Linked DNA regions of Homo sapiens: all the other regions are linked to region 1. The links come from fine-mapping of genetic effects on gene expression. A gene starts in region 1. Each other region holds a variant in brackets. All regions are shown on one strand. Distances are from middle to middle.

Region 1 (5,000 bases):
TAGAGCCCCATACCTTATGCAGGTTGCCAGGCTCTGCACTGACCCATGGAGGACCGTGAGGCATCCAGAATAGCCTTAGCCTTGGCCCCATCCATTGTCAGCTCCTCCAGCTTCTCCAGCTTGTCCTCATTCAGTTCCCTTCGGTTTCCAATAAACTGGGCAAGACGGCAGTATGTGGCATTGTCGTTGATGATCTTCACCAGCTCCGGAAAGTGATACCCGTACCACTCCCTGCAAAGAGCCACAGTCACTCCCTGGCCCAGCTGCTTCATCAAAAACCATAGAGCTACAGCCTTGCCTTCTCCACACCTACTCTGCCTGGAGGAAATGGGACAAAGATCCAAATCTTCCTCAATTCTATGTTCCCCCATTCACAATACAGACCAGGCACAGGGCCTGAGCTGAGGTGTATATGGGGTAGGTTTACTCTACCTCCTCTTTCTATACAGTCAGTGTAAGAACACAGCCTGTGGTAAGCACCAGGAGGCCTACACCCAGCCCCAGCCCACATGGTTCTACCCACAGGATGGTCAGTCCTCATCAAGACTCAAAATTAACTGAACTACAGACCAAAGGCTCCAGTATTATGGGTGGCCCCTGCACTTTACCTGACACGCATAGAGAAGGTATTGATGTCCTTATCCAGCTGGTCCAGGAGGCTAATGGACTGGATGATCATATTGTCCACCCGGTTCACATTAAACTTAACTTTGGCACGGGAATAGCTGTGTCCCAGCCCCAGCTGTGCTTTACAAGCTGACAGATCGGTCAGACCCTTCACCAGATTGTGGAAGTGCAGACGAACTCCTAAGAAGAGGGCAAGACGGTGAGCAACAAGGGGCTCTGAGCTAGCTCCCGCACCCACGGGCACCAGCCCAGCCTGAAGGCCTTCCCAGAAATCACAACAAGCAACCAAGTTTCCAGAACCTCCTCCCCCAAAATGTCCAGGATAACAGGAATATAACAGATGATGGTCTCACCTCGCAGGATCTCAGCTATGACTCCTCCAGTCTGGCAGTTGTACCCTAACTCCTCCTGTATTGCGGCACCAATCTTGGGATCCCCAACTCCCAAGAGTACTTTCTTCTTTTTGGACGGCAGGTGGGTCTCCAAGAGCAGGCGGAGGTCCTCATGAACAACCCCTCAGGGGAAAGAACACAGTTCCCACTAACAGGCTGAAGGACGATCAACTCTAACATCCCTCAGCTGACTACCCTGGTCCCACCGAGCACGCTGGGATGGCATACCTAGATCCCTCCCCATCAGGCATTGCTCAGAGACATGGAGACATCAGTGATTGCACTCAGGGGATTGACAGATTTGATTCGCAAGTCATCACTGCAAAGCCTGGCCCAGCCATGGGAACAACTGCATTCAGGTCTGATAGCACAAGTGGGCAATAAATAATAGCTTGTAACACACCCTCGAGTATTTCGTAGAATTTGCCTTCTGGAACCAAACCTTTTTTTCTCAGCCTGTGTTTACCCAACTGCCCTTTCCAATCGAACAGAAAGCAGAGAACCAGACACTTGATTGTGTTTAGGCAAAACCTCAGGCACAAGTAGGTGTTAAGCCGACCCCCTTTAAGAAACCCCCCTTTGTCGGCCGGGCACCGTCGCTCGCGCCTGCAACCTCAGCACCTTGGGAGGTCGAGGCGGGCGGATCACGAGGTCAGGAGATGGAGACTAGCCTGGCCAACATGGTGAAACCCCGTCTCTACCAAAAATACAAAATTAGCCGGGTGTGGTGGCTGGCACAGGCCTGTAATCCCAGTTACTCGGGAGGCTGAGGCAGGAGAATCGCCTGAACCAGGGAGGCAGAGGTTGCAGTGAGCCCAGATCTTGCCACTGCACTCCAGCCTGGGGGACAGACTCCATCTCAAAAAAAATAAAAATAAAAAATAGTTTGTCACTACAGTGCCCACAAGGAAACGTTAACACACATTCCACATCGTCTGCTTAAACAGTTTGGTCTAGCACAGTTCCCAGACCTTGAGCTCTGTGAAGACAATTATTTCAAATTACACATTGTATGGCTCAAATACTGCCTCACGCCTATCAGACTCAGAGCCAGCCAAGGACGGCAAATACTATCACAAGCTGCCCGAGAGGATACCGAAAGGAACCACATCTCTCTGTGACACTTGGCGGTGGCCGACTTACCTTCAGACACGGCGTTGGCATTTTCCAAGGCAACCTGGGATGAGGCAAAGGGACAAAAGGCCACCAGACGAACGATGCTGTGGAATTTGCCCAGGTTGAGCACAGACTCCTCCACCTGGGGGGAGAAAGAGGCTAAGTGGTTTCCTTCCCTCCCTCCTGCCTCTGCGGCGCAGTCAAGCAGCGGTTCTCAGCCTTGGAAGCTCTTAAAATATGCTGATACCTGGGCCCCACATCCCAGCTTCTGCTTTAATCGTTCGGGGGCGGCGTCCGGGAGGCTTATTTCTAATTGCTAGAGCGATTCTACCCATGGGTCAAGGTAAAGACCCCCGGATCTAGAGCTTTCCAGGCCCGTCCCCCCGCCCCGAACCGCTCGGCCGGCCACGTGGGAGCGCGCTGTGCATGCTGGGACCCGCGCGATGAGGGTCTGCGGGGCCGCCAAAGGAGCCCACGGATCTCACCCACCTGCGGCTGCAGCAGACTGATCTCCTCCACTTCCTTCAGCGCCAGCAGCGCGTAGCCGACCGCGTGCTCAAACAGCACGTGCAACAGCACCTGGAACGGGAGCCGGGGCGCGAGCGTCAACGCAACCTCAGCGTCTGCCGGAACCCGTTCCCAGGGCAGGCGCAGGCGCAGGCGCAGGCCCAGGCCCAGGCCCAGGCCCTGTCTGCGGCCCGAACGCAGGCCGAAACCCCCACCGTCGCGTCGCCCGCGCCCCGCAACCACTCCTCACCATGGCGCCAGCTCCCGGGTTCGGCTCGCAATGCGGCTAGCGCGCTCCGGCGCGCGGAACCAGGCTCCAGAGGCCACGCCCCCGCCCCCCCGACCAATCGGAGGCCGGGGACGACACCATCTCCGGCCTTTGGAGGGGCCGCCCAGGGTGGTATCGCCCGGAGCGCGGGCTGGGTGGTGCCGAGCGCGGGCGAGCGGGCCTTTTCCGGCCTCTGCAGCTGCGCGGGCGGGCGTGGTTGCCGGGGACGCGCGGCCCCCGGTCGGGCACTGCAGGCGGCGAAACGACTTGGGAAGGCCCTTTCGGGGTAATAGTCCGGTTCCTGATGTTCTTGTCATATGAGTTACGGGCAGCAGAGCTGGGTGAAGTCGGGGCGGGAGGTCCGCGTGGGGCGCGGCGTCCATCCCAGACAGAGACCGCTGCCTAGCCGGCTTCCCGCTTCGTCCGTGGCCTCGGGCCCCAGACCCTGCGCCCCACGTCCCCGGGACCCAGGCGTTCCCGTCCCCTACTCGGGGACGAGCCTCCCCGGCGCCGGGTGGGCGGTGCATCCTTTCCTCCCACCCGTAACGGGAGCGGTGCCTGGCGCGCTCTGGCGCAGACCCTGCTGGGAATGTAGCTCGCGCAGTTTTCTTCGTACTATTAATTTATTTCTTTTTTTTGTTTTTGGTTTTTTTTTTTTAAATGACTGTAGCAGGCAGTAACGTGCGAAAGAAAGACGCTCCAGCGTCTTCCTAGGCCAGTTTCTTGTTGCTGTGCTGCACGGGACCCAGCTCCTTTTGCTGGGCCACGTGTTGCTCCTCCGCTTGGGCGGCCCTGAATTCTGGGCGCTGGTGATCGCTGAGTGAATCGCAGCTGCTTCCCTGTCCTTGAGGGCGTCTTTTGGGCACTCAGGCGACTCTTTAGAAATGAGTTTTGCTTTAATAATTAATATTAACGTTATAAATCCAAAACCTAGTTATACTTAAGTAGCGTATCCCCTGGTATGTTTTAAAGAGTCATTCGAAGGGGATTTTTAAAAATAATGTATAGCTATAAACTGCATTTATACATTTAATTGTTATTTTGTTAAGCGATTGAGTTACTTGACAAAATCCAAGTACATAGTTCACTCACAAATCTAATATGTCAAACCTAAATGTGGTTGGTAAATCTTACTCTCATAATTTCAATATGGTTTACAGATGTGGTTGAATTCTGTTACACATGTCTACTTACGAGTCAGAATCGTTATTCCATTTAATATTTTAAAATGGAATTGCCAAGTTAATCCATACATTAGCATGTTAAATTATTTTAACCGTCGTGAATACATCAAAATAGACGATTCCAAAATGTAATGGAAAATACTAATGCTAATACTTCAATTTACTTCATTATTTCTGCCCTTAATCCTGAATCTTCCTGGAGTTACAGGTGCTTATCCACTAAACCAGGGGTTTTCAAGCAAGAAGTCAGAATGCATTAATGGACAGCATTTAAAAAAATAGGATTGGGTGGGCTATAATCCAGCACTTTAGGAGGCCGAGGCAGGCGGATCACTTAAGATCAGGAGTTCGAGACCAGCCTGGCCAACATGGTGAAACCCCGTCTCTACCAAAAAATAAAAAAATTAGCTGGACGTGGTGGAGCATGTCTGTAATCCCAGCTACTCGGGAGGCTGAGGAAGGAGAATCGCTTGAACCCGGGAGGCAGAGGCTGCACTCTAGCCTGGGCAACAGAGCAAGGCTCTGTCAAAAAAAAAAAAAAAAAAAAAAAAAAGAAAAAGGATTAAAGCGAATAGAAATAAGAGTGTGTTGCTTAGAGTAAGGTGCTGTTCATTGTAAAACTTTTGTCTCAGCTCTACATACATATATAGAAATATGTACACAAATATTTTTCATATATACATATATATGTAACTATATGAACACACTTTTGTGTGTTAAATCAGAATATAAAAAACCTGAGGGTCAATCAATGAGCCAAAAGGTAACCAGTCGTACTCTGGAAAAATTTGGGTCCTCTGGTTACAAAGGAGCTGTCATGAAGTAGTTTGCTGACTTACAGAGATGGCTGAAGAAAAGTGCTTCTGCTGGTGAGATAACCAATGCTTGTGATCAGATATGGATGTG
Region 2 (5,129 bases), 21 kb before region 1:
GGCTACTTTTTGTAGTTTTAGTAGAGATGGGGTTTCACCATGTTGGCCGGGCTGGTCTCAAACTCCTGACGTCAAGTGATCCGCCTGCCTTGGCCTCCCAAAGTACTAGGATTACAGGTGTGAGTCACTGCGCCTGGCCTGAAACAGTTTTTGATTTTGTGCTCAGTCCACGATGGTGAATGTGTTGTTATGTCTTGTTCGATGACGGATCTAGGTGGTGATGGTGGTGGTATGGGCAGTGAAGTCTGGATCAGCAGCTTGACTACAGTTTGTCTCATTAGAGAAGGGCCCTTACCATGGGCATCTCTGTGAGTAACTTGGGCATCTGATTGGCAGCTGAAATTATTTCCACAATATGCAGCTGCAATAGGGAATGTCTTTAATCTTCCAGTCTTGTGGGCAAGATAGCTAGGCCATTGGCAACCACACAAAAGGCAGTAAAAATGTAGAAGGGTTCATCACGGGGAGTATTGGCCAGAACTATCAGCACTCCCTTGAGCTCTGTCCATTGAGTGGAGCAGTCATGCTTGCTTTTTTTAAAAAATTATTATTTATTATTATTTTTTTAAATTTGAGATGGAGTCTCGCTCTGTTGCCTAGACTGGAGTGCAATGGCGCGATCTCGGCTCACTGCAACCTCCGCCTCCTGAGTTCAAGCAATTCTCTTCCCCTAGCCTCCCAAGTAGCTGGGATTACAGATGCACGCCACCACGCCCGGCTAATTTTTGTATTTTTAGTAGAGACGGGGTTTCACCACGTTGACCAGGCTGATCTGGAACTCCTGACCTCAAGTGATCCACCCGCCTCGGCCTCCCAAAGTGCTGGGATTACAGGCGTGAGCCACCACGCCCAGCCCATGCCTGTTTTTGGTTCTGCATAGCTGGTGCTGAGGTTGAACGTGGACACTATAAGGTGTCAGCCTAGCCAAACCATCATTGTACCAGGCCAGGTGCCTAGGGAACCCTCTGTGACTTGAGGGCCCCATTGAGCCAGCAGCTTTGCTTCAAGTGGTGAAGTTAGGAAAAGATTTCCCCTGAAGGGATTTTTGCTGCCACTTTTTCATGTAAAACCCAGCTAATATTAGGACCAGGCCAGCTGTGTTACTGAATACAGTATTTCCATTGGATTAATAATGCCTTTTGTGCCCCTCCCTTAGTAGCCACCAAATCCAAGTTGACCCATCCCAAAATGGGAGTGTCAGTTTGGAGAGTCACAGGAACTTTTTGGGTCAGTAACAAGTTAGTGGGCACCTTTTTAAAAAGGGGATGGGGGCCTGGCATGGTGTTTCATGCCTGTAATCCCAGCACTTTGAGAGGCCGAGGAGGGCAGGTCGCTTGAGGTCAGGAGTTCAAGATCAGCCTGGCCAACATGGTGAAACTCTGTCTCTACTTAAAAACAACCACCAAACAAAAAAGCCAGGTGTGGTTGCGCATGCCTGTAGTCCCAGTTACTCGGGAAGCTGAGGCAGGAGAATAGCTTGAACCTGGGAGGTGGAGGTTGCAGTGAGCTGAGATCATGCCACTGCACTCCAGCCTGGCAGCCGGGGAGACAGAGCAAGACTCTGTCTTAATAAAATAAAGTAAAATAAAATAAAATAAAATAAAATAAAATAAAATAAAATAAAAAAGAGGGGATGGGGCCGGATGTGGTGGCTCAGGCCTGTAGTCCCAGGGCTTTGGGATTATGGAGGGAGGATCACTTGAAGCCAGGAGTTCAAGACCAGCCTTGGGAACAAAGCAAGATCTCATCTCTACAAAAATGTATTTTTAAAATTAGCTGGCATGGTACGTGGTGGCAGGCACCAAGCTACTCAGGAGGCTGAGTGGGGAGGATTGCTTGAGCCCAGGAGTTCCAGGCTGCAATGAGCTGTGATTGTGCCACTGCATTCCAGCCTGGGCGACAGAGAGAGACTGTCTCAAACAAAAAAGGGGGATGGGGGAGGGATGGGGCCAGGTGTGGTGGGATGGAAGGATCACCTGAGGGCAAGGAGTTTAAGACCAGCCTGAGAGACCACGTCTATGAAAAATTTTGTAAAATTAGCCGGGCATGGTAGCTCACAGTTGTCGTTCCAGCTGCTCAGGACAGTGAGGTGAGAGGATGGCTTGAGCCCAGGAATTCAAGACTGCAGGGGGCTCTGATGGTGTCACTGCACTCTAGCCTGGGTGACAGATCAGCAACCACTCTCTAAACAATTTTTTTTTTTTTAGGCCGAGTCTCGCTGTCACCCAGGCTGGAACGCAGTGACGTGATCTCAGCTCACCACAACCTCCGCCTCCTGGGCTCAAGCAATTCTCCTATCTCAGCCTCCGGAGTAGCTGAGACTACAGGCGCATGCCATCATGCCCGGCTAATTTTTGTATTTTTAGTAGAGACAGGGTTTCACCATATTGGTCAGGCTGGTCTTGAACTCCTGACCTCAGGTGAACCACCTGCCTCGGCCTCCCAAAGTGCTGGGATTACAGGCGTGAGCCACTGCACCTGGCCTCTAAACAATTTTTTTAAAGCTATGTGCTTGGTGAGTGTGTCAGGCAGGTGGTGCTATTGTGCTTGAGAACAGCCTCTGAGTAATCTGGCCACCTTTGAGACTAATTTTCAGATTTCCCTTTTCCTTCCTGATTTTTTTTTTTTTTTTTT[C/TC]AGATGGAGTCTTGCTCTGTCGCCCAGGCTGGAATGCAGTGGCACGATCTCGGCTCACTACAACCTCTTCCTCCTGGGTTGAAGCGATTCTTCTACCTCAGCCTCCTGAGTAGCTGGGATCACAGGCGCCCGCCACCACGGCCGGCTACTTTTTGTATTTTTAGTAGAGACCAGGTTTCACCATGTTGGCCAGGCTGGTCTCAAACACCTGACCTCGTCATCTCCCAGCCTCAGCCTCCCAAAATGCTGGGATTACAGGCATGAGCCACTGCACCTGGCCTCCCTCTTGAAAGTCTAAACTGTTTCTCCTGGACCATCTAAGAGGGTTCAGAAACCACCTTTCCACATGTGGCAGTCTCTGAAAGGGCGAATCCCATCTGACACTTATGGGCATTGGCAGTACAGGCCGGTATGAGCATCAATACCAGTAATACATTTGCAGTGAAAGCCACTGAATTGGCCCAAGGGCCCCACATGGAGCGTTACTTAATTTGCCTTCTTCCACTGCAAACTTTGCTCAAAGCCTATCAGTTGAACTTGGGGGATTTTTTACCTTCTGGGAAAACAAACCAAGGTGTTTAGTGTGTGCACATCAGGAGCAAAAGCAACAGCTGCCGGGAGCTCAGGCTAGCTCACAGGGTGCAGCTAGGAGGCTTTTATTTCTCCTTGGCCCCTGGCTTCAGGGTTGGCATTGCTGCTGCTTCCTCTGTGTAGCTCCAGTGTCCATCCAGAGAGTTCCCAAGCCCCGAGGCCCCTTTCATTTTGTCCCCAGTCCACACTGCAGTCCTGGGGTGGTGCCTTCAGCCATCTCTGCACCCATCCACGGAACTAGGTAAGATGGTGAATTGGGCACTTGGGCCCAACAGAGATATACAAGTTTTGAGGACTTTGCCTCCGTGAAGTTCCCCAGCATACTCAACTTTTTCATTACAACAGCTGAGCCAGACACGGTGGCTCACGCCTGTAATCCCAGCACTTTGGGAGGCCAAGGCAGGTGGATCGCTGGAGCCCAGGAGTTCAAGACCAGCCTGAGCAACATGGCGAAACCCCGGCTCTACAAAAAATAAGCCAGGTGTGGTGGTGTGCACCTGTGGTTCCAGCTATTAGCGAGGCTGAAGTGGGAGGATCACCTGAGCTCAAAAGGTCGAGGCTGCAATGAGCCGTGATCATGCCACTGCACTCCAGCCTGGGTGACAGAGCAAGACCCTATCTCAATAAATAAATTAATAAATTAAATAAAAGCAGCCGGAGGTGGAGTAGAGCGGGAATAGAGGGATTGGGGAACACAGGGGAGAGAGCGAGCCTGTGCCAGTGAGCAAGGCTTCCAGTGGCCACCTGTGGGGCTTATCCAAATACCTTGTAGTGTTTTGGGGTCACTGTGAAGCTCTGTATCAAACATGATGGCTGATACCATGTATTTCAGCTTTGGGGATTCTTTGACTCAGCAGCCACATCCATGTTGCCTTTTGAGTGCAGCTGTGGGGCTTGCTGCCCCCTTGTCATAACATCCCTTCCTCCTCCTGAGCAAGAAACGAAGCACCGTTTGAGTGGCTTGTTTCAACCCTACCTCTCGTTGCTTAAACTCATTAAGGTAGGACAGTGTGAGCTCCTTATCCTATCCACCCTACCCCTGCCACCCACCATTTGGGTGAGAGGATCCACTAACATATGCCAAGGAGTCTTTTCATATCCCCTAATCTGGTCCATAAGGTCCTTATCCTTCCTCTTCCAGAAAGTCATGTTTATCAGCAGCCTGTCCTCATTGCCAAAACTGTCAGGGCCTGGCATTTGAATTTTCCCTGCTGATGTGTGAATAATTCGCCTCTTACTGTTTCATGCATGCTGGCAAAGATGAGACTCCCGAGTCAGAGACAAAGGACTTTATTAAGGCACAGCAAGCAGCCTAGGCAGCATGTTTATATTGACTCCCTCGTCCCCCTGTCCCCTTGTCCTCCAGGGGGCAATGTGGAGGGCCCTGGTGGATGCTGTGGGTTTGTGTGGCATCTAGGGGAACACTGAGCTTGGGGAACCCACCCCTTTCACAGCAGGGAATAAGCAAGCCTGCTCTTTAGGAAGATAGTTCCTCATTCCTCAAGGTTGCTCCCTGCAAACACAAGCAATAATATACTTTAAGAATAAATACAGACTGGACGTGATGGCTCATGACTGTAATCCTAGCACTTTGGGAGGCTGAGGTGGGTGGATCACTTGAGGTCAGGAGTTCAAGACCAGCCTGGCCAACATGGTGAAACTTCATCTCTACTAAAAATACAAAAATTAGCCAGGTGTGGTGGTGCATGCCCATAATCCCAGCTACTTGGGAGGCTGAGGCAGGAGAATTGCTTGAACCTGGGAGGCAGAGGTTGCAGTGAGCTGAGATCGTGCCACTGCACTCCAGCCTGGGCGACAGAGTGAGACTCTGTCTCAAAAGAAAAAAAAAAGCAGAAATGCATAATATGATGTCTCGTAGTAACTGGTATAATTGAGAAAATAAA
Region 3 (5,129 bases), 29 kb after region 1:
TAGGAGTAAGGTCAGTGTCTTGGAAATAGGGCAAAACTGAAATAAATCAGCCCTGAGAAAGCCCAAAGCTAGCAATAGCAAACTATTTTCCAAAGATGGCCACAATACTATGACTCCTGTCTTACATGTGCTTCTAGAATCTTGTCATTGCCTCATCAAAAGATAAGTCTATATTTCTTTCTCTTGAACCTGGGTATCCCTTTGTGATTGCTTCAATAGAGTATGGCAGGAGTAAGTAAAGATGCCATGTATATCCACTGCATTCTCTTGGGATGCTTGCTCCTGAAACTCAGCCACCATACTATGAGGAAGCCCAAGCAGCTTGTGAGAAGGAAGTGAGGCCTCCAGTGCCAGCTGGCCAGTCATGTGAGTGACCATCTTGAAAGTGGGCCCTCCAGCCTCCAGCTGAGCTGACCCAGATGATGTTGAGTAGAGAGGAAAAGAATGATTCCTGCTAAGTCCTACCCAAATTGCAGATTCATTAATAAAATATTATTTTTCAGTTTTGGGGGTTGTTTCTTATGTAATAATAGATAGCTAAAACATCAAGTCTTGACAGGATTAAGTGATCTCCTAGTATTCCATTTGCCCTTCAGGAAAAAAAACCCATCCCTTTGGGGAAAGATAACATTATTCACAGCCTCTATAATTTTTCATCCACATGTCTGACATCTAGTAAAAATTACATGCCATGATAAAAGTAGGGCTGAGGATAAACAAGAGGAAAACAAATGACAACAAAAATACACCCAGGTGGTTCAGATATTGGAATATCAGACTGGGATTTTAAAAGTAATTATAACCACTATGTTCAAGAAAATAGAAAGCTGGAGAATTTCACCGGAGAGTTGGAATTTATAAATAACAGTCCAAAGGGAATACAACCACTTTGGAGAGCAATTCTGTAAGATCTAAAAAGATTGAAGAAACACATGCTGATGACCCACAATTCTGCTTCTAGATGTCTACCTTAGAGCAACTCTCAGAATTGTGCAAGGAGATATATACAAAATGTTGGCTGGAGCGCAGTTTGCAATAGCCGAAAAGTGGAAACAGCCTAACTATCCCTATGCAGAGGAATGGATAAACTGTGGCTTATTCATGAGATGGAACATAGTAGAGCCTTCAAACATGTGCTCATGTATCCGCATGGATAAATCCCCCAACATAATGTTGTTTGAGGAAAAGCATGTAATGTGAGTCATTCATGAAAAGGTTTAAAACTCCGGAAACAGTACTATACACACATGTGATTAAAAAGTACAAAATATGCATGGAAATAATTAAATCTAGTCTGTATAATAGTTACCTTTGGGGAGGGAGGAAGAAAGAAGGATTGAGTGGGGCTTGAAGTGCATCTGTAATGTTTTATTTCTATTACGAAGAAAGATAAACCTGAAGTAAATATTGCAAAATGTTAACATCTGTTGAATCTTGTGATCGTGTACATGGTTGTCTGTACTCATTTGTATGCTGGGAATATTTCATAATTTTTAAAAAAGCATGCCAAAATAAGATTTTTTTAAATAAAGAAAAAATGCTAACATTTTTACTAGCACATTTTTTGATGGCAACAATTCCAATCCAAGACTCTGGCTTCCTGCCTTTCTTCCCTAGTTCTTTCCTTGAGCATTTACTGTTTGCCTGCTATGCTCTAGGCATTAGGCTGGCACCGGGGATACAGAGATTTTCGAACTTGTTCTCTAATGGTTGTTGAGGGGGACAGTGATGAAGGAACCAGCTTGTTCCAGTGTATAAGCTGCTCCATCGAGTAGTGCTGTGGGCCCAGCCAGGATCAGGCCGAATCACCGTTCAGCTTCCTGATAGGCTCAGAGCCCACAGGACTTTGATATTTCTAGTGAGCATTTTAGTGGGAGTTGTTGCAGATACTGTCAGGGCTCACCCAAATTTTCAGTGTGCTCCAAAAGACTTGCACTTGCTGGTGCCCTCATCTCTGTTACCAGAAGCTTCCCTTCCCTCTTGGACCCCTCACTCACACCCCTTGAAGCCATTTTACCCATGAATGACGCTGGGAGCTGGTCTATAAATGCCTCGGATCCTTTGCCCTTAGGGAGGGCTGAGTCTGAGGCACACTGCCTCCCAGAATTCTCACAGTGATAACCATGCATTTTCCTTTCCCTTCCTTGTCTCAAGTCCTCACCCCCTCCCTAATAAAATACTTACACTTGAATCCTTGTCATGGATTCTGCTTCTGGGGAGTGCAGACTAAGAAGGCAAGATGAAAAGGACCTGCCAAGGAAGTCTCAAATTCAAGGAGAAGTTTCCGTGGGGTGGAGCCA[T/G]GGGTCCTGGCTAACTTACAACATCAGCAGGATGGCTGGGATGATCAGGCCTGGATTGGCGAGGAAAGCAAAGATCTTGCCCAGGAAGGTTGGGAAATCGTTTTCAATGGTCTCTTGGAGGACATCGTACATTCTGTTTTTCCCACTGGAAAAAGGAGAGGACACAATATAACATGCTGCCATGTGCCTGTGGCATTCACAGCTGTGTCCATGGCCCCCCTACCCAGGTCCAGGGCTGCTGCCTGCCACTGCTTTCCTGGAAGAACCAGAGCTCTGCTCCAAATGAACTGCAAGTAAAAAATTCCCCCTGAGGGGCTGCCATTCTGGCTAGGGTGACAGCTGGGTCGGCACACGGCTCACCGGCTTTCTATCCTAAGTAACTTACAACCTCTTAGCCTTCACTGGTCTTTTGTGTCTGACACCTTCCTCAGCCAGAAAAAAATGGTTTTCCTCATGTATTCTAACTGGAGAAATTGTCTGTGTTTGTAGCTACCAGGCCAACATGGAGCTTCCTTTGGGCCTGGGAAACAGTTCTGCAGAAGCTGATGTGCTGGACAACCTGAGTGTCTCTCAGAAATACCTAGAATTAACCTTCAGATTTTAAGTCTAGGAGATATTGGATCACCTAGGACAGGCTCCTGGACAGTTCACAACTGTAATTTTTATTTTCTTCAAATACCTAAGAACCATTATGCAGATTTACTTCTACAAATGCTGGCCCAGAGACTCCTGGATGCTGCTGGCTCTTGGTTGATAATTTTGGTGCCAAGAGGTGGAATACGGGGTTTGAAATTCCTGGTTTAAATCCTTGATCCCCCATTTATCACTGGTGAGACACGTGGACAATTATTCTCTCTCTCTCTGTCTTTTTTTTTTTTTTGATGGAGTCTCACTCTGACACCCAGGCTTGAGTGCAGTGGCACAATTTCAGCTCACTGCAACCTCCACCCCCGGATTCAAGCAATTCTCCTGCCTCAGCCTTTCAAGTAACTGGGATTACAGGTGAGCGCCACCACGCCTGCCTAATTTTTTGTATTTTTAGTAGAGATGGTGTTTCACCATGTTGGCCAGGCTGCTCTCAAACTTCTGACCTCAAATGATCCGCCCACCTCAGCCTCCCAAAGTGCTGGGATTACAGGCGTGAACCACTGTGCCCGGCCTGACAATTATTCTCTTTCTGCTTGTATTCATATCATGCCCTGGTTCTCCCCACGAAAGCTGTGCTGTCTGATGTGGCTATTAAAAATAAAAATTAAGATGAAGTCAAATTTGAAATTCAGTTTCTTAGTTACACATTTCAAGTGCTTAATAGTCATATGATTAGTAGCTGCTGTGTTAGAAATGCAGATATGGAATGTTTTCATCATTACAGTAAGTTCTATTGGATGTTCAATATCTGCAGAAGTTCAATACCTTTGGGCAAGGTATTGAAAATTTCTCTGCCCCAGTTTCCCCATCTGTATAATGTAGTATAATAATACTATAGTATAATATGGTATTTTAAGTATAATAATTGTATTTATCTCAGAAGATTGTTTAGAGGATATAGATGAGAATTGATATAAAACATTGAGTGTAGTGCTGTTAAGTTATAAGCGCCCTTCAAAATTTTGCAGCTAAACATTTTCTGTGTAAAGTATAGATGAGGAGTTCACCGACAATGGCTCATGGACAAATTCAGCTTGTTACCTGTTTTCTTTTTCTTTCTTTTCTTTTCTTTCTTTCTTTTTTTTTTGAGACAGAGTCTCTCTCTGTCGTCCAGGCTGGAGTGCAGTGGTGCAATCTCAGCTCACTGCAACCTCTGCCTCTGGGTTTCAAGCAATTCTCCTGTCTCAGCCTCCAGAGTTTACACACAATGCCTGGTGGATTACAGGCAGGCACCACTACGCCCGGCTAATTTTTGTATTTTTAGTAGAGACGGGGTTTCGCCATGTTGGCCAGGCTGGTCTTGAACTCCTGACCTCAGGTGATCCACCTGCTTTGGCCTCCCAAAGTACTGGGATTACAGGTGTGAGCCACTGCGCCTAGTCTGTCACCTGTTTTCATATGGTCTGTGAGCTAAGAATCATTTTTACATTTTTAAGTAGTTGAAAGCAAGTCAAAACAGGAATACTATTTTGTGACATGTAAAAATTGAAGTATAAAATTAAAATTTTAGTGTCTGTAAATAAAGTATTATTGGAACACAGCCATGCTCACTCATTTTTTGTGCTATAATGACAGGGAAGAGCAGTTGTGTCAGAGACCATTTGTGGCCATCTCATTGCTTACAACTGTTGCCCAGCACACCACAAATTGCAATGACGCAGTTATAGCATGATGGCATTTCAAGTGCCAGGCACATCACTGTATGACAATGTTTCATTTATTATTATTATTATTTTTATTTCCAGTGCATACCCGCCATGTACAAATGAGAAAAGTTAAGTTTACGTGTTAGGCTTTTATGTGACAGTTGAATGTAGATTATTTTGTCGTTGAATTAGATGGTGTATCAGATTCTAGTGCCTGCTGTTTGTCACGCTGGTGGCTTAAAACAATACAAATTTAATATCTTACAGTTCTGGAGGCCAGAAGTCTGAAAGGGATTCACTGGGTTGAAACTAACCTGGGGCAGGCATAGGATAACAGTTATAAACTTTCCAATACCAAAAAGGAGAAAATGGAAGGAAGAAAGAATCACCAACCTCAAGCAATTTTGAAATCCAATCAGCCAAGCTCCATTAGGGGTTTTATTTTTTATTTTTTGAGACAGAGTCTTGCTCGTTGCCCAGTCTGGAGTGCAGTGGCATGATTTCGGCTCACTGCAACCTCTGCCTCCCGGGTTCA
Region 4 (5,129 bases), 37 kb after region 1:
GGGCTGTTTTGCATATACGACCCTTTTACGGGACAGGGTTTCTCCTCATTGGCAGGCAGGGTTGGGACTAGAGTGAGGCGGGTGAGGCCCTGAGTGCACAATTTAAGGAAGTAATGCCCTCAGGGTTGCTCATGTGCAGTGTAGGGCGTCACTCACCTGCCTCACCCTATTTCCAGCCCTGGATGAGTGATCCATGCAGAAAGGGTTCTGTGGTCAATAAGGACGGAGACACTAGCTTACAGGTGTTACCTCATTGCATGATTCTTCAGAGCCTTTAACAAAGGAGTGTGCATTGAGCATTTCTAAGTGAGATAATGGCAGACAGAAGGGGCAGTACGTCCTAAACTGCTTTAACCACAGAACCTCTCTTTACGGAGTTGGCAGAGGGCTTTGTTTTCAGAAGGTCAGGCATTTGGAAAGAGAACAGTAGATGCACATTATCTCTTGATCTACCTCCTTACATAATTATTTGTCTTTTTATACAATATCTAGTCTCCCAACTAGCTTGACTTATGTATTGAACCCCCAGGCCAATGCTCTGGAGAGCAGAGAGCTCAGTTGAGGTCTGTCAAGAGTCCACTGCAGCTGCTTCACATTTAAACGGCACGTGTAAGTGTATGGTAATTCATCCTCAGAATATCCACCATTACTTATCCTATGGTAAAGTAATCCCAGGTAGTAAGTTATCCATGTGTTAAAAGGGTAGAACTGTGCTGTCGAATATGGTAGCCATTAGCCATGTGTGGTTATTTTAATTGAAATTAAGAACGAAATCCTGTCATTTGCAGCAACATGGATGGAACAGGAAGTCATTATGTTAAGTGAAATAAGCCAGGCACAGAAAGACAAATATTGCATTTTCTTACTCACATGTGGGAGCTAAAAAAGTGGATCTCATGGAGGTAGAGAGTAGAATGAGGTGATCAGAGGTTGGGAAGGATAGAGAGGAGTGGGGATGAAGTACGGTTGGTTAACTGGTACAAATATACAGTTAGATAGAGGGAAGAAGTCCCAGTGTTCCATAGCACAGCAGGGAGATGACAGTTAACAATAATTCATTGTATAATTTCAAAGTTCCCAACACAAAGAAAAGATAAATGTTTAGGCCAGGCACGGTGGCTCACGCCTGTAATCATAACACTTTGGGAGGCCGAGGCAAGTGGATTGTTTGAGGCCAGGAGTTCAAGGCCAGCCTGGGCAACATGGCAAAACCCCGTCTCTACTAAAAATACAAAAATTAGTTGGGCATTGTGGTGCATGCCTGTAGTCCCAGCTACTTGGGAGGTGGAGGCATGAGAATCGCTTGAACCTGGCAGGCAGAGGTTGCAGTAAGCTGAGATGGCACCACTGCACTCCAGCCTGGGTGACAGAGTGAGACTCTGTCTAAAAAGAATAAAAAATAAATGTTTGATGTGATGGATATCCCAGTTACCCTGATTTGATCATTATATATTGTATACATGTATCCAAATATCACATGTACCCCCAAATATGTACAACTATCAGTTAAAAATTAATAAATAAATGAGAAAAATACATGAGAAATTAATTTTCTCAGTTCCTCATTTCAAGCACTCAACGGCCACAGGTGGCTGGTGGCTACTGAAATGAACAGCGCAGACACAGAACGACCTAACATTTCCATCCTGGCAGAAAACCCTCTTAAATGGCATCGGTGATTCACCCAAAGTTCCATGGCCTTTTACAGGCTGGCATGAAACCAGAACTGGAATTCTGGGCCGAGGCCCTCTGAGCAGACTGCCTCGGGAGGGGAGGTGCTCCCGGGCAACTGAGACTCTGCACCTGAACGGCCCGCAGTCAAAGGAGGGTGGGAGGGACATGATGGTGTAGGCCACCGGCAGGAGGCTGAGGAAGAGCACCAGCAGCAGGAGGCCCATGTAGAAGTTGTTGGATCGGGAGGCTTTGAACACGCGTTCATGGGGTACGTTGCTGCTCATCACCGCCCAGCACTGGAAGTACATGGAGGTCAGCAGGCGCAGCACATTAATGCCCACCAGGCCTGGAGCATAGAAGGAGCCCATCCTGGAATGGCAGAAACCAAACACCTGGTTGGCTGGACAGCAGGGAAGGCGAGGGAAGGGTGATAGAA[G/A]GAAATGGGACGGATGGGTTAGGGGCATGAGGCCGAGCTGCTTTCCTGGCAAGTCCCCAGGTAAGGGGCCTCCCATTTAACCAGAATATCGATCATCAAGCCAGAACCATGCAGTCCTCAGGAGAGGGAGGCACTCCGAGCATTCCTGGCTTAAGCTCTGGCCAAGATTTTACCACTGACTCGCCCCCAGGCATCTAGCAAATTATACGGTCTCCTGCCTGTTTCTCCTCGGTTTCCATAAAACAGCATTGCTGCTCAGAAGAGTATTTGAAGTCCTTCAATTGAGAGAATTGGACAGTGGCTTGCAGCGAGCCCTTGGCACCTTGAAAGTCTTTGGCTGAAGTTATGTACCTCCTTGAACTCCCTTTTCAGAAGAGGGAGTTCCATAGTTCATTTACCTTCCACCTTCTCTTCCTTCTTTTCTCCCTCCCTCCTTCTTTATTTTCCTTTCCTCCTCTTTTCCTCCTCTTCTTTACTCCTTCCTTTTCCCTTTCCTTTGTCTTTCTTCCTTCTTCCCTTTTTCTTCCCTCTTCTCCTTCTCTCCTGCCTTCCTTCCTTTTCCTTTTCTCCTCCACCAACCCCTCTCCCTTTCTCTCTACTTCTATGGTAGCACATGGGTGGGCCAGAAACTGTCCTGCTTCTCATCTAGTCCCGCTCTTGATTTTTCATGTGAAAGAGGGGAGTTCAGAGAGGCAAGAGGACTTATCTAGCCTCTTCCAACTAGTTAAGTTGCAAAGTCTGGGATTCCAGTTTTTTGACTCCTTGGATGAGGCGATCACCAGATGAAATGGATAACTCACCAGATCATTCCTTGGTTGAAGATCAAACCCAGCACATTTCCACTAATATCAAACTCAGCATATGAAGGCTAGAGAGGGAGGGAGGGAGCGAGAGAGAGAGAGAAAAAAAAAAGCACGTTTGGTGAATTCAGCCAAACCCTACTACCAACCAACTGGCCAAGCCAAGGCCATTCCATCCCAAAGAGCCTGCTCTGGTAACTAGAGAAGAACCTTAGATTTAGCATTCTATTTCTTTAATATGTTTTCAACTTTTAAACAAAAAATTTGACATTCTCAAAGCTGAAACTTTAAAAATGCCTATTTCAGTAAACAAAAAAATGACAGTTTCTATCTTTCAGGCCTTGCAGGCTGACAGCGTGTTCTTGGGAAGACCCTCGCCTCTAACAGAACATTTTATCAACGTTTTAATCAGAAACATACCCTGAAATTATAATCAAGGAGAAATCTAATAAATAATGAAATGCAAATAATTAAATGAGGAGTCAAAAGAAAAGAAAGCTTAAAAACAAACAAAAACCAAATCATCCTTCCAACTCTTCTTTCTCCTTCTCTTCTTCCTCCAGTCTGAGAGCAGTTCACGGAAAGGAAAGCACCCAGCTTGGTTCATATTTTCAGCCTACCTCATTTGCAGTTTTCGTGATTTGTCCGAATATTTGAAAGAACATAAAATCTGTGAGCACTGAGGATATGAGGGTCCTCATGAAGCATGCTAAAGCCCACATCCCAATTTGTCTTCCAGAAATGGAGATAAAGGGAAATGAGAACACAAGAAGGAGAGATGAGAAGTTAGGAAAGAGACAAAGGAAGGGCCAGCATGCATGGATGGAAGAAGGAAACATGCATACATTAAGTCCACGGGGTGAAGTCTTGGATGTTTATTTATTGAGACGGAGTCTCGCTCTGTTGCCCAGGCTGGAGTGCAGTGGCACAATCTCAGCTCACTGCAACCTCTGCCTCCTGGTTCAAGTGATTCTCCTGCCTCAGCCTCCCAAGTAGCTGGGATTACAGGTGTGCAGCACCATGCCCAGCTAATTCTTGTATTTTTAGTAGAGATGGAGTTTCACCATGCTGGCCAGGATGGTCTTGAATTCCTGACCTCAAGTGATCCACCCACCTCAGCCTCCCAAAGTGCTGGGACTACAATGTGAGCCACCGCACCCCCACCCAGAATTTAAATTTTAATATTTTAAAATGTTAAAAAAAACACATATCTACTGGGTTTCATGTCCTACTTAGACAAATCTTCCTCACTCCAAGATTCTAAGTTTGTACATGCTTTCTTTTAGAAATTTATATTTTCATTTTTTTGATGTTTAAGACTTTGATGTGCCTAAAATTAATCTAGATGAAATGAATGAGGGATATAATCCCCCACATTTTTATATAATTTATATATATTTTAATATAATCCTTTCCCCCCAGTGTGTTTGAAAGTCTCCCTTTATCATAAACTAAAGGCCCATGTAGATAGTATCTATTTCTGGACTTTCTATTCTGTTCCATTGACATGTTGGTCTATTTTCTAGTACCAGTTTTAGTTATTATAGCTTTATCATATGTTTTAGTATTATGGTAAGTCTAGTTCCTTTTATTCATCTTTTTATTTTTTCTTTATATACTTTTTGAGACAGGGCCTCACTATGTCGCCTAGGCAGGAATGCAGTGGTGTGATCAAGGGATCAAGGGATCCTCCTGCCTTAGCCTCCTGAGTAGCTGGGATTACAGGCATGCACCAGCACACCCAGCTAATTTTTTATTTTTTGTAGAGATGGGGTCTTGCTAAATTGCCCAGGCTGATCTTGAACTCCTGGACTCAAGCAATTCTCCTAATTTGGCCTCCCAAAGTGCTAGGATTACAGGTGTGAGCCACCATACCTGGCCTTATTCTTCTTTTTAAATATTTTTTCTGGATATTCTCACATGCTTATTTTTCAAATGAACTTTAGTATTATTTGGAAATCGTGGTGATCTTACAAACAAATTTAAGAACAATGACCTCTTAGTAATATTGTGTCTTTCTATCAAAGATGTCATCCTCTTTGAGCACAAAGTTCTTTCATCTTCGTTCTCAGACAAGATTATGAAGCTTTCCTGGCTGCCGAGGAGCTCAGCAGACTTGTTTAAAACTGAGACTGGTGACTGAACGAAAAAAAATGTGACAGAAACCTGTACTGGGGCCCTTACCTGGGCCAGGCCAGGATGAGGGATACATAGGTCAA
Region 5 (5,129 bases), 94 kb after region 1:
CTGAATCAAGTAGCAGAATATGGTTTTCCTTTGATATTTGTATCTGCATTGACAACAGTAGTTTGTCTTTTTGTAGAAGAACTGTTTTGGCTTCAAAGTCAAATCAAATCAGTTTCAAAACTACATCTGTCCAAATTAAGTAAATTCACCAACTCTTATGTCAACTCAGTGGCATTAACACTGAGTTACAATTAAATGAGGAATTCAGTTGCTCAGTCACACTGGCCACATTTCAAGTGCTCAGCAGCCACATGCAGCTAGTGGCTGTCATATTGGACAGCAGGGCTGTGGAGAATTTCCAGCTGGGGAGCTCCCCATCTCCCAGATAATACTATGTGCTCAGTTGTCACAAAATCCAAGTGTCTGTGTGTGCTCCCTACAGCCTCCAGCCTATTCTGACTCCATTTTTTTTTTTTTTTTTGAGATGGAGTCTTGCTCTGTGGCCCAGGCTGGAGTGCAGTGGCGCAATCTCGGCTCACTGCAAGCTCCACCTCCTGGGTTCACGCCATTCTCCCACCTTAGCCTCCGGAGTAGCTGGCACTACAGGCACCCGCCACCACGCCTGGCTAATTTTTTGTATTTTTAGTAGAAATGGGGTTTCACCATGTTAGCCAGGATGATCTCGATCTCCTGACCTCGCGATCCACCCACCTCGGCCTCCCAAAGTGCTGGGATTACAGGCGTGAGCCACCACGCCCGGCCTCTGACTCCTTTAGTGATGAAAAATAGTGACTCTCAGCTGAGTGAGACAGCGCCCAATCGGGTAGGTAAAGGAAAGGACTAAGGAAGGGTTATGGCTGGGCAGCCTGAGTGTGTTTCATAAATGGTAGTATTAGGGTGTGGGCTTGGGTTACTGCAGGTTTTAGAGACAGGTTTGCAGCAGCCTCTGGGTGTTTTAGCTTCTGATTAACTCCTGGGGAGCAAAGAAGAAGTTTTAGGATGCCCTTGAAGGTTGAAAAGCCTAGAACACAGAGATATTTTTTTTTTTTTTGCCATACTTCATGCACACCCAATTGATGATATCTGCCTTTGAGTCTCTGCGTAGGGTGTTCCCACAGTTTGGGGTGTTGGACATTCAGTCATTGCTTATTTAGATTCCACCTGTTATTCAAAGCCTCACTGGGATGTTCACCTTCTCCATGGAGGAACCCTGATGGCCCAGCACCCGGGGAATTCAGCGCTCCATCAAGTCCTGTCTTGCATGCATATTGCTTTCTGCCTTGTCTTAGGATTACCAATGCCTATGTGTTATCTCCTCTGCCACACTGTCAGTATCTAGGCAACGGGAACTGAATGTTTTCATCTCTCTAATGCCTTGGCATGGCCCTCAGCTGAAAATGACATAAATGAGTCTGTGGCCCATTGGGATGGTACAGGCTCCCTCTAAAGTTCAGGGCACCCAGGGCCCATCAACGGTGCATTCACGTTATTTTTAAATGGCCAAGGGCACGATGCACCCTTTACCTCTTTAGTTCATGTCTGGGAGCAACCAGACAGTAGACAAAGGCTGTAACCAAGCCAGGATGGTTGGCATGGCGACAGGAAAAAAATCAGTGCCCTTGTTTAAAAGCCTCTCTGTAAAGGTGGAGAGGAAGATGGAGCACCCAACTGAGGCTGTGGGCAAAAAGGATTTGCTACAAACCACCGGGAAAGAACATCAACTCTTCACCATAATCCTAATATTCCCAACTGTTGCAAAAGAATTCCTATTCTATCACAAAGAATTCTTAAAACAATATGAGCAACGAATAAGGCATCTGTTATCCTCAATGACTGAAAAAGGGAGGCAAAGAGAGAGACACCTATTAAAATTGATAACAAAAACATGAACCCCAAATCTTCACTTTCTGATGCCATAAGCTGGCCCTGTCCACTAACCCACACGTGCTAGTTGGTGCCAATGGTAATGGAACAAAGGAGGCAAAACAAATAAAACCTCCAAGCTCCAGAATTTCAGAGCTGGTAGCATCCTTGAAGGTCTCCTGGACCAGTGCCACATTTCCAGCAGAGGAAACTGGCCCAGATCCGGAAGCCGGAACGAGGTGTGCTTAAGCCCTCAGATGGTTCCTGAGTCCGATTTTGTTCATGTCGCTCAGCTCCTCCTCTTCGAGAGCCGGGGTGAGTCACCAGCTGGAGTTCAGGGGACGCGGGATCGTGTCCCACCCGCTGCCCTGTCACCTCTCCACCCGCGCCCCGCCACCTCTCCACCCGCGCCCCGCCTCACCGGGTGCCACGAGGCGCTGGAGTGGAGAGCCCGCGGCCACTCCCCCGCGCGGACCCGCGATCTTCATCCCGGTTCTGGGATGAAGAACCCACCGCAGAGTGGGGCAGTGGTAAGGGCTGGGAGGCACGGAAGCCAGAGCGAGGGCACGGGCTGCCTCTCCCCGGGGAGGGGGGCATCAGTCCCTCACGGGGGAAGGGGAAGGGCCGCGAAGGAGCGGGAGCGCGCGGAGCGAATGCCCAGAATCGGAGCCA[C/T]AACACACCTGGGTTTCTTCTGCCGCTTCGACTTCTCCTCCCTCCTCGGAATCTCCTTTTCCCTCTTTGGGGCTGCTGTCCGCTCCTGGAAGGAGGCCCTCTCGTCGCGCTTTCTCCTGCCCTCGCAGGTCCTCTCTGCCTCGCCCCGCTCCTGCTCCCCCAGCTCTTCTCTGTGTCTCCTGCGCCCTGTTTGCTTCCTCCGGGGAGACCCCGGGCTTGGGCTGCCCCCGGCGCGCTCCTTCTGGCTTCGCTGAGCTCCGCGCCTGCCTGGGGTCCCCTCGGCTTTGAGAGCCCGCTTGCTTGAGGATCTCCTTCCCAGCCTGTCACCTGCCGGGGCGGGAAAATGGACAGTTCTGGTTCCAACGGCCTCAGGCCCAGGAAAATGTCCCCGGCCGTGAGAAATCAGACGTCCAAGATGATTCCGAGAGCTTGTGAGCTCTGCGGGGCTCAGAACAGGACACCCCAAAGTATGGCACCTTGGCATGTTGAGTATTTTAAGCTGAAGGAAACTAAGAAAACTGCAGAAGCAGGAAGGTCACTCTCTGGCCTTCTCCCTCCCGTCTCCCTTGAAGACCTCCTGTGACAGGTGTCCTGCCCTATACCCAAGGAAAGGAAAGTCACACAGAGAGGCCAAGAGGAATCGGAACAAACAGGCCTTGCTACTTCCCCCTGGTTGATTACCATGACATCATACCCTTTTGTCCTCCGATCATACTTCTGCACAACTCTCCATAAAAATACAGTTTTCCCTGTATATTTGGGTCTTCGTTTCTGAAGGCTCTTGTGTTCCCTAAAACTTACATTAAATAAAATTGGATGCGTTTATCTTGTTAATCTGTCTTTTGTTATTGGGGTCTCATCCACAAACCTTGCAATGGCTAAGGAAAGAAATCTCTTCTCCCTCTAGGTCCAAAGGCCACCTATTCTGAAAGCTTCTGGTCTGGGTGAGAATGACTGCCTTGGTGGGGGCGCACTTTCATCAGTTTTACCTCCAGGAGCCCTACCAAATTTTCACTGTGAGGTCAGGAGTTGGAGACCAGACTGGCCAAGGTGGTGAAACCCCATCTGTACTAAAAATACAAAAATTAGCTGGGCGTGGTGGTGCATGTCTGTAATTCCAGCTACTTGGAAGGCTAAGGCAAGAGAATCGCTTGAACCCGGGAGGTGGAGGTTGCAGTGAGCTGAGATCACACCAGTGCACTCCAGCCTAAGCGACAAGAGCGAGACTCCATCTGAAGAAAACAAAATAAAATAAAAATAACTGATTAATATGTTAACAGATCTAATGGATAAAATGGACAACATGCAAGAACAGATGAGTAATGTAATCAAAGAGATTGAAACTCTAAGAAACAATAAAAAAGAAATGGTAAAAACCAAAAACACTATAATAGAAGTAAAGAACACCTTTGATGGGCTCATTAGTAGACTGGTCACAGTCAAGGAAAGAGTCAGTGGGCGGAGGATATGTCAATAGAAACTTCCCAAACTGAAAGCAAAAAGAAAAGAAATTTCAGAGATGGAACAAAATATCCCCAAACTGTGGGACAATTTCAAAAGGAGTAACATATGTGTAATGGGAATGCCAGAAGGCAAACAGAGAAAGGAACAGAAGAAATATTTGAATTAATAATTGCTAAGAATTTTCTAATATTAATGACAAACACCAAACCACACATCGAGAAAGCCCAGAGAACATCAAGCAGGATAAATGCCAAAAATCTCCACCTAGGCATATCGTATTCACACTGCAGAAAACCAAAGACAAAGATAAAATCTTGAAAAAAGCTGGAGGAAAAAACTCACCTTACCTGTTGGTATAAAGATAAGAATTACACTAGATTTTGCTCCAGAAACTGTGCAAGTTAAGAGAGTAGAGTGATATATTTAAAGTGCTGACGGAAAAAAAAAAAAGGACAGAATTCTGTATCCATCAAAAGTATTCTTCAAAAGTGAGGAAGATAGACTTTCTCAGACAAACAAAAACGGAGATAATTTGTTGTCAGTAGACCTGCCTTGCAAAAAAAGTTTTATTTTATTTTCATTTAGAAACAGGGACTCTGTTGCCTAGGCTGGAGTGCAGTGGTGCCATCATAGCTCACTATAACCTTGCACTGCTGGGCTCAAGTGATCCTCCTGCCTCAGCCTCCCAGCTAATTAAAAAACAATTTTTTTTTAAAGATGGAGTATCACTATCTTGCCCAGGCTGATCTCAAACTCCTGGCCTCAAGAGATTCTCCTGCCTTAGGCTACCAAAGTGCTGGGATTATAGGCATGAGCCACCCTGTCCAGCCCCTCAAAATGTTAAAGGAGGTTCTTCAGAGGGAAGGAAAACGACATAGGTCAGAAACTTGGATTTACATAAAGGAAGAGCATTCAAGAAGCAATAAATAAAGAAAAAATAGGCCAAACCTGGTGGCTCACGCCTGTAATCCCAGCACTTTGGGAGGCTGAGGTGGGTGGATCATGAAGTCAGGAGTTCGAGACCAGCCTGGCCAACATGGTGAAACCCCGTCTCTATTAAAAATTAGCCAGGCATGATGGCACGTGCCTGTAATCCCAGCTACTGGGAAGGCTGAGGCAGGAGAATCACTTGACGCTAGGAGGTGGAGGTTGCAGTGAGACGAGATCGCACCACTGCACTCCAGCCTGGG

Evidence for each region.
Region 2: its variant is fine-mapped to the expression of NOP56 in monocytes (Quach 2016, PIP 0.95).
Region 3: its variant is fine-mapped to the expression of NOP56 in whole blood (TOPMed, PIP above 0.99).
Region 4: its variant is fine-mapped to the expression of NOP56 in monocytes (Quach 2016, PIP 0.95).
Region 5: its variant is fine-mapped to the expression of NOP56 in whole blood (TOPMed, PIP above 0.99).

The regions. Positions count from the first base shown.
Region 1 is chr20:2,650,556-2,655,555 of GRCh38, reverse strand. NOP56 (NOP56 ribonucleoprotein) reads right to left here and starts at 2,924. Exons shown (of 12, transcript NM_006392.4): 1 at 2,893-2,924; 2 at 2,625-2,714; 3 at 2,163-2,277; 4 at 981-1,142; 5 at 609-807; 6 at 44-231. The coding sequence starts at 2,895. MIR1292 (microRNA 1292) reads right to left here and starts at 2,779; the gene lies at 2,714-2,779. SNORD110 (small nucleolar RNA, C/D box 110) reads right to left here and starts at 1,344; the gene lies at 1,270-1,344. It overlaps SNORA51 (small nucleolar RNA, H/ACA box 51), which reads right to left and starts at 489; the gene lies at 358-489. It also overlaps LOC105372505. RefSeq lists enhancers at 1-96, 2,211-2,300 and a silencer at 2,801-3,440.
Region 2 is chr20:2,671,656-2,676,784 of GRCh38, reverse strand. The region is part of intron 2 of LOC105372507 (a long non-coding RNA gene); the gene reads left to right. Among named protein-coding and RNA genes, the nearest start is that of IDH3B-DT, 9.9 kb to the right of the region's middle. The variant C/TC (reference allele first, on the strand shown) is at 2,635.
Region 3 is chr20:2,621,587-2,626,715 of GRCh38, reverse strand. TMC2 (transmembrane channel like 2) reads right to left here. Exons shown (of 20, transcript NM_080751.3): 17 at 2,320-2,445. All of the region lies in intron 2 of LOC105372505 (a long non-coding RNA gene), which reads left to right. Among named protein-coding and RNA genes, the nearest start is that of NOP56, 28 kb to the left of the region's middle. The variant T/G (reference allele first, on the strand shown) is at 2,301.
Region 4 is chr20:2,613,986-2,619,114 of GRCh38, reverse strand. It overlaps TMC2 (transmembrane channel like 2), which reads right to left. Exons shown (of 20, transcript NM_080751.3): 15 at 2,911-2,978; 16 at 1,804-2,043. LOC105372505 (a long non-coding RNA gene) reads left to right here. Exons shown (of 5, transcript XR_007067502.1): 4 at 530-609; 5 at 4,983-5,069. Among named protein-coding and RNA genes, the nearest start is that of NOP56, 36 kb to the left of the region's middle. The variant G/A (reference allele first, on the strand shown) is at 2,111.
Region 5 is chr20:2,556,129-2,561,257 of GRCh38, reverse strand. It overlaps TMC2 (transmembrane channel like 2), which reads right to left. Exons shown (of 20, transcript NM_080751.3): 3 at 2,484-2,802. Among named protein-coding and RNA genes, the nearest start is that of TMC2, 22 kb to the right of the region's middle. RefSeq lists an enhancer at 2,509-3,219. The variant C/T (reference allele first, on the strand shown) is at 2,476.